Linked DNA regions of Homo sapiens. The protein of the gene in region 2 interacts with the protein of the main gene of each other region in a pairwise test. Each region holds a gene or a part of one and is shown on either strand. Other genes may lie near its edges.

Evidence for each region.
Region 1: the proteins of PTPRN (region 2) and SPTBN4 interact in a two-hybrid assay, tested with the Homo sapiens proteins (one study listed by BioGRID and IntAct).

Annotation. Positions count from the first base shown.
Region 1 is NC_000019.10:40,511,853-40,519,148, reverse strand, and holds part of SPTBN4 (spectrin beta chain, non-erythrocytic 4), read right to left. Parts: intron 6,544-7,296; coding exon 5,595-6,543; intron 3,839-5,594; coding exon 3,701-3,838; intron 1-3,700.
Region 2 is NC_000002.12:219,289,076-219,292,650, forward strand, and holds the end of PTPRN (receptor-type tyrosine-protein phosphatase-like N isoform 1 precursor), read right to left. Parts: intron 2,449-3,575; coding exon 2,395-2,448; intron 1,816-2,394; coding exon 1,751-1,815; intron 1,537-1,750; coding exon 1,463-1,536; intron 1,223-1,462; coding exon 1,151-1,222; 3' UTR 548-1,150; downstream 1-547. UniProt on the Homo sapiens protein: Plays a role in vesicle-mediated secretory processes. Required for normal accumulation of secretory vesicles in hippocampus, pituitary and pancreatic islets.

The DNA.
Region 1 (7,296 bases), on a different chromosome or scaffold from region 2:
TCACTCTCATTCTTTCCCGAGTGTTCAGTGGAGTTTTCCAGAGGCGGCAGGAGAGACTGAGAGCAGAAGCCGACTCTGATTTAAGAGAAGCCCAGCTGCCATCTCTTAAACCAGACTTTAAAGAGATTTGCAAAGGTACGAAACAATGCCACTCTTAGTACATTTTGTGTTATGAAAAGTTATTTTTAATAAAAAAGTTATATTAACACGTTAGATATTTAGATTTAAAAAAATTTTTTTAAGACGTGAGATCTCACTATGTTGCCCAGGCTAGAACGCAGTGGCTATTCATGAACTCGTTTATGGCACACTGAAGCCTCCAATTCGCAGGCTCAAGCGGTCCTCCCACCTCAGCCTCACAGGTCTAACAGGCACGCACCACTCCCAGTGTATTGTTATTTTTAAATAATGTTTTCAAATTTCTCAGCCGGGTGCAGTGGTTCACACCTGTAATCCCAGCACTTTGGAAGACGGAAGCAGGTGGATCGCTTGAGCTCAGGAGTTGGAGAGCAGCCTGGGCAACATGGTGAGACTCCTAAAATACAAAAATTAGCTGGGCGTGGGGGTGCACACCTATGGTCCCAGCTACTTGGGAGGCTGAGATGGGAGGATTGCTGGAGCCTGCGAAGTCGAGGCTGCAGTGAGCCATGATTGTGCCACTGCACTCCAGCCTGGGTGACAGAGTAATGAGACCCTGTCTCAAAATAAATAAATAAAAATAAAAACATTTTAAATTTTCTCAGTACTAAGTTCTAATATAGTAAATAGCAATAGATATGACCCACTAAAACAAGCTCTTGGGGTCCTCAATAGTTTGGGTTTTTTAAATTTTGTTTTCTTTTTTAGACAGAGTCTTGCTCTGTTGCCCAGGCTGGAGTGCAGTGGCACGATCTCAGCTCACTGCAACCTCCGCCTCCCAGGTTCATGGGATTCTCCTGCCTCAGCCTCCCAAGTAGCTGGGATTACAGGCGTGCACCACCACACCCGGCTAGTTTTTATATTTTTAATAGAGATGGGGTTTCATCACATTGGCCAGGCTGGTCTCAAACTCCTGACCTCAAGTGATCTGCTTGCCTCGGCCTCCCAAAATGCTAGGATTACAGGCGTGAGCCACCATGCCCTGCCTGTTTCTTGCATAAAGCCATTATGATTCTCTAAATATCTTGTCCATTTATTAGTGTATTTAACTGTCTTTCTGCCCCCTCTAGAATGGACACACCATGAGGACAGAGATTAGGACTCTGAAATCAGGCAGACCCGAGTTCAAGTTCTGCTCTGGCCAGATTTGCCATGTGACCTTGGGCAAATCATTTCCTTCTCTGATCTTCAGTTTCCTCATCTGGAAAATGGGGATAATAAAGTCCACTTCATTGAGTGTGTAACGAGATCATGTGGCTAAAGCACTTGGCATATAGATCTCTCTACATGCTGTAAATCGTTATGATTGTAGTTATTTTTTTAGGCCTGGATGCTTTGCGATGGTCTTGGCTACAGAGGTTTTAAAATCCCTGGATATTGGAATCTTGCAGCACAGAGTCAAGAGCGTAGTCTTTGGGTGGGGCAGAGTGGCTCATGCCTGTAATTCCAGCACTTGCGGAGGCCAAGGCAGAAGATCACTTGAGCCCAGGAGTTCGAGACCAGTCTGGGCAACAGAGTGAGACCCCATCTGTACAAAAAATACAAAAATTAGCCGGGTGCAGTGGTGTGCATCCATAGTCCCACTACTCAAGAGGCTGAGGCAGGAGGATTTCTTGAGCTCGGGTCGGGGGCGGTGAAGGCTGTAGTGAGCCATGATCGTACCACTGCACTCCAGTCTGGGCGAAAGAGCAAGACCCTGTCTCAAGAAAGAAAAAAAAAAAAAGAGCACAGTCTTTGAAGTCAAACATATCCATCTTCAAAGCCCGGTTTGATCCCCTAACTTGCTGTGTAACCTTGGGCCTCCATCTTCGCCTCTCTGAGATCCAGTTTTCTCCTCTCTAATGTGGGGTAGTTTCCACCTCATAGTGTTACCAGGAAGACTGGATATATTAGATAAACAGCTACAGCTCAGGATTCAGCCAGAACTGTATTTGACTCCTACTTATAGACTGAGTAATCTTGGATAAGGAGTTCACCTTTTTGGACTTGTATCTTCATCTATGAACCCCACCTGCACTGGGAGAATTGCTGGTAGTATTCCAGAGGTACTGATATTAGTTTGTTACTTATCTTAAAGAGTTCTGGGCTAGGAGCAGTAGCTTACACTGTAATCCCAGCTCTTTGGAAGGCCAAGGTGGGAGGAGGCCAGGAGGTTTTTGTTTGTTTGTTTGTTTGTTTGTCTGTTTTGGTATAGATTCTTGCTCTGTCACCTAGGCTGGAGTGCAGTGGTGTGATCTTGGCTCACTGTAGCCTCTGCCTCCCGGGTTCAAGCAATTCTTCTGCCTCAGCCTCCTGAGTAGCTAGGACTACAGGCACATGCCACCATGCCCGGATAATTTTTGTATTTTTAGTAGAGATGGGGTTTCACCATATTGGTCAGGCTGGTCTCGAACTCCTGACCTCAGGTGATCCACCTGCCTTGGCCTCCCAAAGTGCTGGGATTACAGGTGTGAGCTACCACGCCCAGCCGAGCCCAGGAGTTGTAAGACCAGCATGGCCAACACAGTGAGACCCTGTCTCTACAAAAAAAATTTTTTTTAATTAGCTGGGCATGGTGATATGCACCTGTAGTCCCAGTTCCTCAGGAGGCAGAGGTGGGAGGATCGCTTGAGCCTAGGTGTTGGAGGCTGCAATGAGCCATGATCATGCCACTGTATTCCAACCTGGGCAACAGAGCAAGATCCTGTCTCAAAAGAGAGAGAGAGAGAGTTCTGAATTCTAGGATCTTTACTATGGAAATTGGGATATTGGGAATTTTTTTTTTTTTTTTTTTGAGACAAGGTCTGGCTCTATTGCCCAGGCTGGAGTGCAGTGGCACAATCTCTGCTCACTGCAATCTCTACCTCCTGGGCTCAAGGCATCCTCCCAACTCAGCCTCCCATGTAGCTGGGACTACAAATGTGCACCACCATGCTTGGCTAAATTTTGTATATATATATACATATATATAGTGTGTATATATATATACATATATATGTGTATATATACGTATATGTGTGTATATATACGTATATATGTGTATATATACGTATATATGTGTATATATACGTATATATGTGTATATATACGTATATATGTGTGTATATATATGTGTGTGTATATATATATTTTGTGTGTGTGTGTGTGTGTGTGTGTGTGCGCGCACGTAGAGAGAGAGACGGGGTTTCACCATGTTGCCCAGGCTGGTCTTGAATTCATGAGCTCAAGTGATCCACCCATCTCAGCCTCCTGAAGTGCTGGGATTACAGTATGAGCCACTGTGCCCGGAAGAATGTTGGGATACTTTAGAAAGGTATATAAAGTGCTTGGGAATACTCCTGGCAGATTGTAGATATCCAATACATTCTTTCTGGACAAATAAATGAACAGCCAACTGAAATGTTGTTTTAATTTTACCACGTCATCACCAGTATCAGGGATTATGATTTTTGGTCAACATTTTGTTGATTTATCGGGTGGCCATTATGATTCCAGGGGTTTGAGATTGCACATCTTGCTGTCCATGGCTGTGTGAGTGTGGAAGGGAAGGATGGGAGGGACTCCCAGCCCCAGGCCCTCCTACCTGCTGTTGAGGTGGTCCTGGCAGGAACGCACCTCATCTGAACTGGGGTGGCCTCCTTCCACCAGCTCCTGGACTGTGTGGTTCACGTCCAGAACGCGGCCCATCAGGCTGTTCATCTCTTGGTCCAGGCTCTCGAATCTGCAGGAGGATGGAGATGCTCAGACACCCGAACCCTGCGGACCTTGGTTTTATGAAATACCTTCTACTGGTTCTACTCCTAATTCTCAATCCACCCTTCTTTTCAGCCTCCTTTGTGGGCTCCTTCTCTTCTACTTGCTGCTTATTTTATTTAATTTAATTTAACTTATTTAATTTAATTTAATTAATTTATGTATGTATGTATTGAGACAGAGTCTCGCTCTGTCACCCAGGCTGGAGTGCAGTGGCGCGATTGTGGCTCACTGCAACCTCTGCCTCCCGGATTCAAGCGATTCTCATGTCTCAGCCTCCCATGTAGCTGGGATTACAAGCATGCGCCACCACGCCCAGCTAACTTTTCTATTTTTAGTAGAAACGGGATTTCACCATGTTAGCCAGGCTGGTCTCCAACTCCTGATCTTATATGATCCACCTGCCTTGGCCTCCCAAAGTACTGGGATTACAGGCGTGAGCCACCACGCCCAGCCTCTACCTGATGTTTAAATGTGAGATTCCTCAGCAGCAACTCCACCCTGAGCCCTCTGGGTTTTCCTTCACACCCTTCTTCAATGATTCCACCCAGCCCCACAGCCTTGGTCTTTGCCCCTGAACTCATGACAGTCACACCTCAGTCTCCAGCCTCAACCTCTTACCTTTTGAACCTGTCTTCGACCTCAAAGCCTACTGTATACCTTCTTGGGGCTATTCACACCCACCTGACTCAAATTTGTTCTTCCTCTGGGCCCCCATGTTGGGGACAGCACTGTCATCTGCCAGGCCAGAGCCCTGGGCTTTGTTTTGGAAAATCGCTCCAGCCCATCAGTCTCCATGGCCTGTTTACTTACCTCCCGCCCTGGTCTAATCTTGTTCCGCTCCATCTGGGTCCCCAGCCCAGTTGCCTCTCTGGGTTCCCAGCCACAACTCTTACCCGCTCCAACCTGCCCTCCACATGGCAGCCACTGAGGTCTACTTTAAGCTAGACATGGTCCTCCCATCTTTAAATCAATGTTTCAAAGAACTGGGCAACTGCAGGCACAGTAGGGGCAAGGAGCAGCCCTGTGTTTCCAGCAGTGCCCAGCACAAGACCTAGAAAGGCATAGGCACTCAGTAAACACCTGCTGAATGAATGTATGGATGAATAAGATGCTCAGACAGAGTGGTGCAGAGGGGGAATAGGCATTGTTCACCCACTAATTGAACAACTCATTGCTAAGTCAGCCAACAGACAAGTCAGTATACAATATGTCATGGGATGGTAAGTGCTACAAAGAAATGTAAAACAGGATGAAACAATGGAAAATCACAAGAGTCAGAGCTATTTTAGTAGCTAGGGAGGTGACATTTATGCAGAAGCAATGGGAGGCCTCCCAGCAGAGGGGCCAGGCTGAGGTGTCCCTGTAGAAGCATAGGTCGTTGATTTCATGCTTGGCGAATGTAAGCCTGGGTAACAAGAGCAAATGCTGGGGGAATGCTTCCTCTACCCCCAGGCATTTGCTTCGTATTCTGCATGTATGAACTCATTTACCGTTCATCACAAGCCTGGGTAGGGACTAATATCACCCCCATTATACAGGTGGGCAAGCTGAGGTTCAGGAAGATTAGGCAGGTTGCAGAACTGTCACAAAGCTGGCTATGGGTGAAGCAGGGATTGGAACTCCTAGTTCCAGCTGAGCAAACATGGGAACTGTTGAGCCAATGAAGGTGAGACTGGGTGCATGAGGAAGGGGACCCCGGAGTCCCACATGTGCGCGCTCACCGGTGCTGCACCACCTCGACGTCGTCGAGTGAATCCGGCACACGCATGGAGAGCAGCCATTGCTCCTTCTCGCCGATCCACAGCTCACACGCGTGCACCTCGCCAAACATGCGGTAGACAGCGAGCGCGTCCCGCAGCCACTGGCGCCTCAGCGCCGCCACTTCGGTCACCTCAGCGAACAACTGCTCTGCTTCCACCACGCGCACCTGCAGCGCCACCACCAGTGGCCCTGCGCCACTGGCACCCCCGAGTGTCGCCAGCTGGCGCCGCAGGCCGCTCACGGGCCCGCGATGTGCCTCCACCTCCCCGGTGAGCGCGCGGTGCTGGCGCGCCAGGCGGCGGCTGGAAGCTTCGTCGTGGCCGAAGTCACCGGCGGCTGCCAGGCGGTAAGCGTCGCGAAGCCAGTCCAGCAGCCCGTCGAGGTCAGCGCCGAACTGGTGCAGCGCCCGCGCCTCCTGCAGCCGCCGCTCTCGCCGCGCCGCCGCCTCTTCCAGCCTCTGCCAGCGGCGCCGGGCGCTCGCCGCGCGCTCCGCCAGGCCTACCAGGTGCACGGTGTCTGCTCCCGGGCCGACGGCACCGCCGGCCGCAACCAGCTCCTCGCCACACCGCAGGGCCTGCTGCAGCAACGCTCGCCGCCCGCCCAGCTCGCCCTGCAGGATCTTGTGCTGGGCCAGGAGGCGCGCTGTGCTGGACAGGTCATGCGCGCCGCCCGCTGTTCCCGCTGCGCCCGCTGCGCCCGCCGCACCGCCGCCGCCCGCAGCCTCCAGGAGACGCTCCTTGTCGCGCGCCCAGCTCTCGGCCTCCTCCAGCTCCTGCAGCAGCGCCCACAGGCTCCGCGAAGCCTCCAGCTCCGCGCGTCGCCGCGCTGCCTGCTCCTGCAGCTCCGCCAGGCAGCCGTGCACGTGGTTCACGCGGTTGCAGATGACCTGCGGGTCGCAGGGCTGGTAGCCTGAGCCAGGAGAAGGGGAGCATCCAGGATTGGTCACAAGCCAAGGGGCGCCCAAGAGAGGATGGTGCGGGCTACCTACCCTGTCCTTGGTGTGACTTCATCAGATGCCGGGTCACGTGGCTCCTCCTCCAGGCAGCCTTCCCTGACACCCCAAGGCTGGAGCAGGCTCCTCCTCGACCCTCTCAGGCTTCTCTGCTTCCCCATCCTAGCCCTGACTACTCTGTGTTGTCATTGCCTTGTCCTGTCTCCCCCACTGGACTGAGAGCTCCTTAAGGGCAGGACCTGGGTCTGTCACACCCTATCCCAAACACTGCCCAGCAAAGGGTGGAGCCCAGAGCTGTAGCCTAGTGAATGTAGTGATTTGTTGACTGAATGATGGATGGATTCAGAGCATCTCAGATTCTGTATATTTGAGTGAAAATTGTGCTTATGTCAGAACTGAGTCAAATGAAACTTCTTTGTTTTTTGTTTGTTTGTGTGTTTGAGACAGATTCTTACTCTGTTGCCCAGGCTGGAGTGCAGTAGCGCGATCTCGGTTCACTGCAACCTCCACCTCCAGGTTTAAGCGATTCTCCTGCCTCAGCCTCCCCAGTAGCTAGGATTACAGGCGCCCGCCACCACGCCTGGCTCATTTTTGTATTTTTAGTAGAGACGGGGTTTCACCATGCTGGCCAGGCTGGTCTCAAACTCCTGACCTCCAGTGATCCACCCGCCTTGGCCTCCTAAACTGCTGGGATTACAGGCATGAGCCAC
Region 2 (3,575 bases):
TTTTTTGTATTTTTAGTAGAGACAGGGTTTTGCCATGTTGGCCAGGCTGGTCTCGAACTCCTGACCTCAGGTGATATGCCTGCCTCAGCCACCCAAAGTGCTGGGATTACAGGCGCGAGCCACCATGGCCGGCTAATTTTGTATTTTTAGTAAAGACGGGATTTCTCCATGTTGGCCAGGCTGGTCTCCAACTCCTGACATCAGGTGATCTGCCTGCCTCAGCCTCCCAAAGAGCTGGGATTACAGGCATGAGCCATTGCACCTTACAATCTTACAAGTTGTGTTACGTGTTACCACAAGCAAGTTCTGTGCCTCAGTCTTTCCATCTGTAAAATGGGACTCATCATGTAAAGCACCTTGGAGACTGCTGGCTGCATAGGAAGCCTCGTTCTAACGTAGTGTTCCCACCTAGAAGGGCCTTACTGGCAGCTGGCGCTCTCCTGCTGTGCTCTCTGCACCTCCTGAGAGACCAGCAGGGACCGGCTCCGGGCTGAGGCTGGGGCTGGAGTCCAGATGCACAGCGGACAGAAATGCGTAGGAGTCTGGGTTGCAGCTGCACAGACAACACACTAACTTTATTCACACTGGTACAAAAGTAGTTTTTTCTAGAAATGTTCTCTTGCGCCAGAAGGAGAGAGGTTGAGCAGCGCATGGTGGGAGGGTGGTGGGAGGAGGCTGGGCGTGAGGCCAGGGAGGGCAGAGCGCCCAAGTGTGAGTCAGAGGCAGGCCCGGGGCTGAGAAGCAGGGGGAGCCGGGTGTGGCGACCCTCCACCCCATTCTTCCATACTGGAGCATAGGGGGACACACACAGATGTTCAGGGAACTCCCAGAACCCCAGGAGAGCTACAGGAGAGCCAGGCCAGGGAATGTAGGCAGGAGAAGGCTCTGGGTAGAATTGCTACCCATGTCCTTTCCTCTCCTCCTGGCTGCAGCACCCCCATGGGATGCCCTGGGCTCTGGGATGCCCCAGGCTCTGGCATGCGAGGCTGGGCAGGCGTGCCCCTTCTGGCTTTCCCTTCCTGACTCTTCTAGGAAGGGCTGAGCATGCCCAAGAGGTGGCTGGTGGGGCAGTGAGGAGTGGGTACACAGAGATGCTCACACAGGCAAAGAGGGACAGAGGCTGGGCTGCCCGCCAAGGGGCCCCAGGGTCTCACTGGGGCAGGGCCTTGAGGATGGCATTCACTTCCTCCGCCACGGCTGTCAGGGCAAATTCAAACTGGTCCTGAGGAAGGGCAGTGGTAGGATGGTCATGGAGAGGGCTGACCTGTGCTCTGCCCTCAAGATGGGGGGCTTTTGGTGGGGGGAGGGCCCTGGGCAGGTCCCCTGGGAGGAAGGGAGCCCTCCTGGAGGAGGCGCAGAAGCAGGTGGGAAAGGTTGGCAGCTGCTGCTTTCCCTGGGGTGGCCAAGAAGTGGGTGCTAGGGAAGGGTGGGAGCTGGGGTTGGGGCAGGAAGGCATGGTCACCTTAGAGCGGACAAGGCCAGGCCGCTGGTCACGGACATGCTCCAGGGTGGCAGCGATGTCAATCTCCTTCACTCCTGGAGATGGAGGTGGGGATGGGGCTGCTCAGGGGGTGTCCAGAGGAGGACAGGACCCAGAAAACCTGAGGCCTCCTGGAGGCAAAGAGCCTTGGAGGGCTGGGCAGAGCCTGGAGGTTGACAACCTGCTCCTTCTGAGCTCCCAGGACCCTGTGTGCTGGGGAGCCTCTAAAAAGGGCCTGGGGGCTGCGGGCACCGTGGGGAAGCTCCCTACCTTTTGCCATGCGGTTCAGGACCATGTCGATGAGGATGTAGGTGCCGGTCCTCCCCGCACCATCACTGAAACAGGAGTTAGTGACAGGTTTAGCTTGAGATGCAGCAGAAAGGGGGAGGGACGGAGGAGGCGAGGAGGCCTGGAGGCCTGGGGGAGGGGAGGACACTGGGTGACCCGTTGGGGTTGGCTTGGAGAGGGACAGTGAGCCGAGGATGAAGGAAAGCTCATAGCACCTGCACGCTGGGACTTGGGCCTTGAGAGGGGAGTCTGTGACCTGTGGGTGTCATTTGGGCAATGGGACAACCAAAGAGGAGAGCCATGGCTCAGCCCAGAAGCAGAGGCAGCAGGAGGGAATTGGATGGGCCTCTCTAGCCTTCAGCCAGCTTTTTGTGTATAGGGGGCCAATGGTCAATATTTTCAACTTTGTGGGCCACATACAGTTTGTATCACATACTTTTCTTCTTTTTTCTTCACCCATTTAAAACTGTGAATGCCACGCTTAGGTCTTGGCCATTAAAAACAGGTGGTGTGCTGGATTTGGACTATGCCTGCAGTTTGCTAGCACCAAGGGGACAGGCAGGCAATGTGCACAGGAGACGCACACAGGGAGTGGGACCAGAGAGATGAATCTCCTCTCCACCCACCTGCAGTGCACGATGATGGGGCAGGAGCGGCCCCGGTAGCACTTGTTCACCTTCCTGCAACAAGAAATGGGTGTGAGGGCCAGTGGGCACCAGCAGAGAGGGAAAGGGAAGCTGAAACACATGACGTGGGCCTCTCTTTCTTCCTTTTCTCCCCACCTGCCCGGGGCAGAGAGGGAAGATGGTTGGAGAAAGGAGCCAGGGCTGGAGGCAAAGAACCAGAGCTGGTGTGGGTGGCATTGGGCTCGCCTTGTCACTTGCAAGCTAGGTGCCCAAGCTATGCACCTGGAACAACTGATTTAACCTCTTTGAGCCTCAGTTTTCTTACCTGTAAAATGGAGGATAGTAAGAAAAACCTCCTTAGGGTTCTTACAATGATCACATGAGATAACCCATGTAAAGAGCTAAGTGCTAGGTCTGGCACACAATAGGTGCTCAATACATGGTAGCAGGTGGCAACTATTAATGATAATACATCATCATATTAAGAGACACTTCTGCCCAAGTCCAAGGGGATAGCTTTCTGGTGACTTCAAGGGTGTCAGTCTTGCCACATCCCTGCTCTGGCCCTCTGCCATTCTTTATGACCACCCAGGCTGTTTTCCTCCCGACTCAGGCTCCAGTGGTCCTTACCAGTTGTGACATCAGGCTGCCCTGGGCATAGTGTTCCCTGGGCCAGGGGAGGACAACCCCAACCCCTCAACTCGGGACATTGTGCTACTGCTTGTCTCCCTGGAGCAGTCTCACTTCAGCACAGGCATTCTGTGGCTGCGTTATATTCAGACTTGGGGTCCCCTTGGACCTCAGACCTTTCTCCACTGCCCCTGACCACAACTCAGTGAGGAGCAGGGGGCTTCTCCGTCTCTCAATGGACCCATCTAACCTGCCCTTGTCCTTTATGACCTTTCTGCTTTGGGAGTCACCTGCATACTCCTGATATCCCTGCAAGCCAGAACCAGGGAAGACCTTCTTAGGGGTTGTCAGATTGAAGTTTGGAACTTCACAGTCCTTCAGCTATAGGACCAGGTGACTTAGAATGGCTTCATAGGAGTCCACATGGTTTTCTAGCTCATTGGCTGTTACGTCAGAGGGCTAGGGTAGAAGAGTAATCACAATAGTTGTTTTTGCTCATTTAATAATGATAATAGGCAGCATCTAGAATTAACGGAGCCCTTGCTATGTAT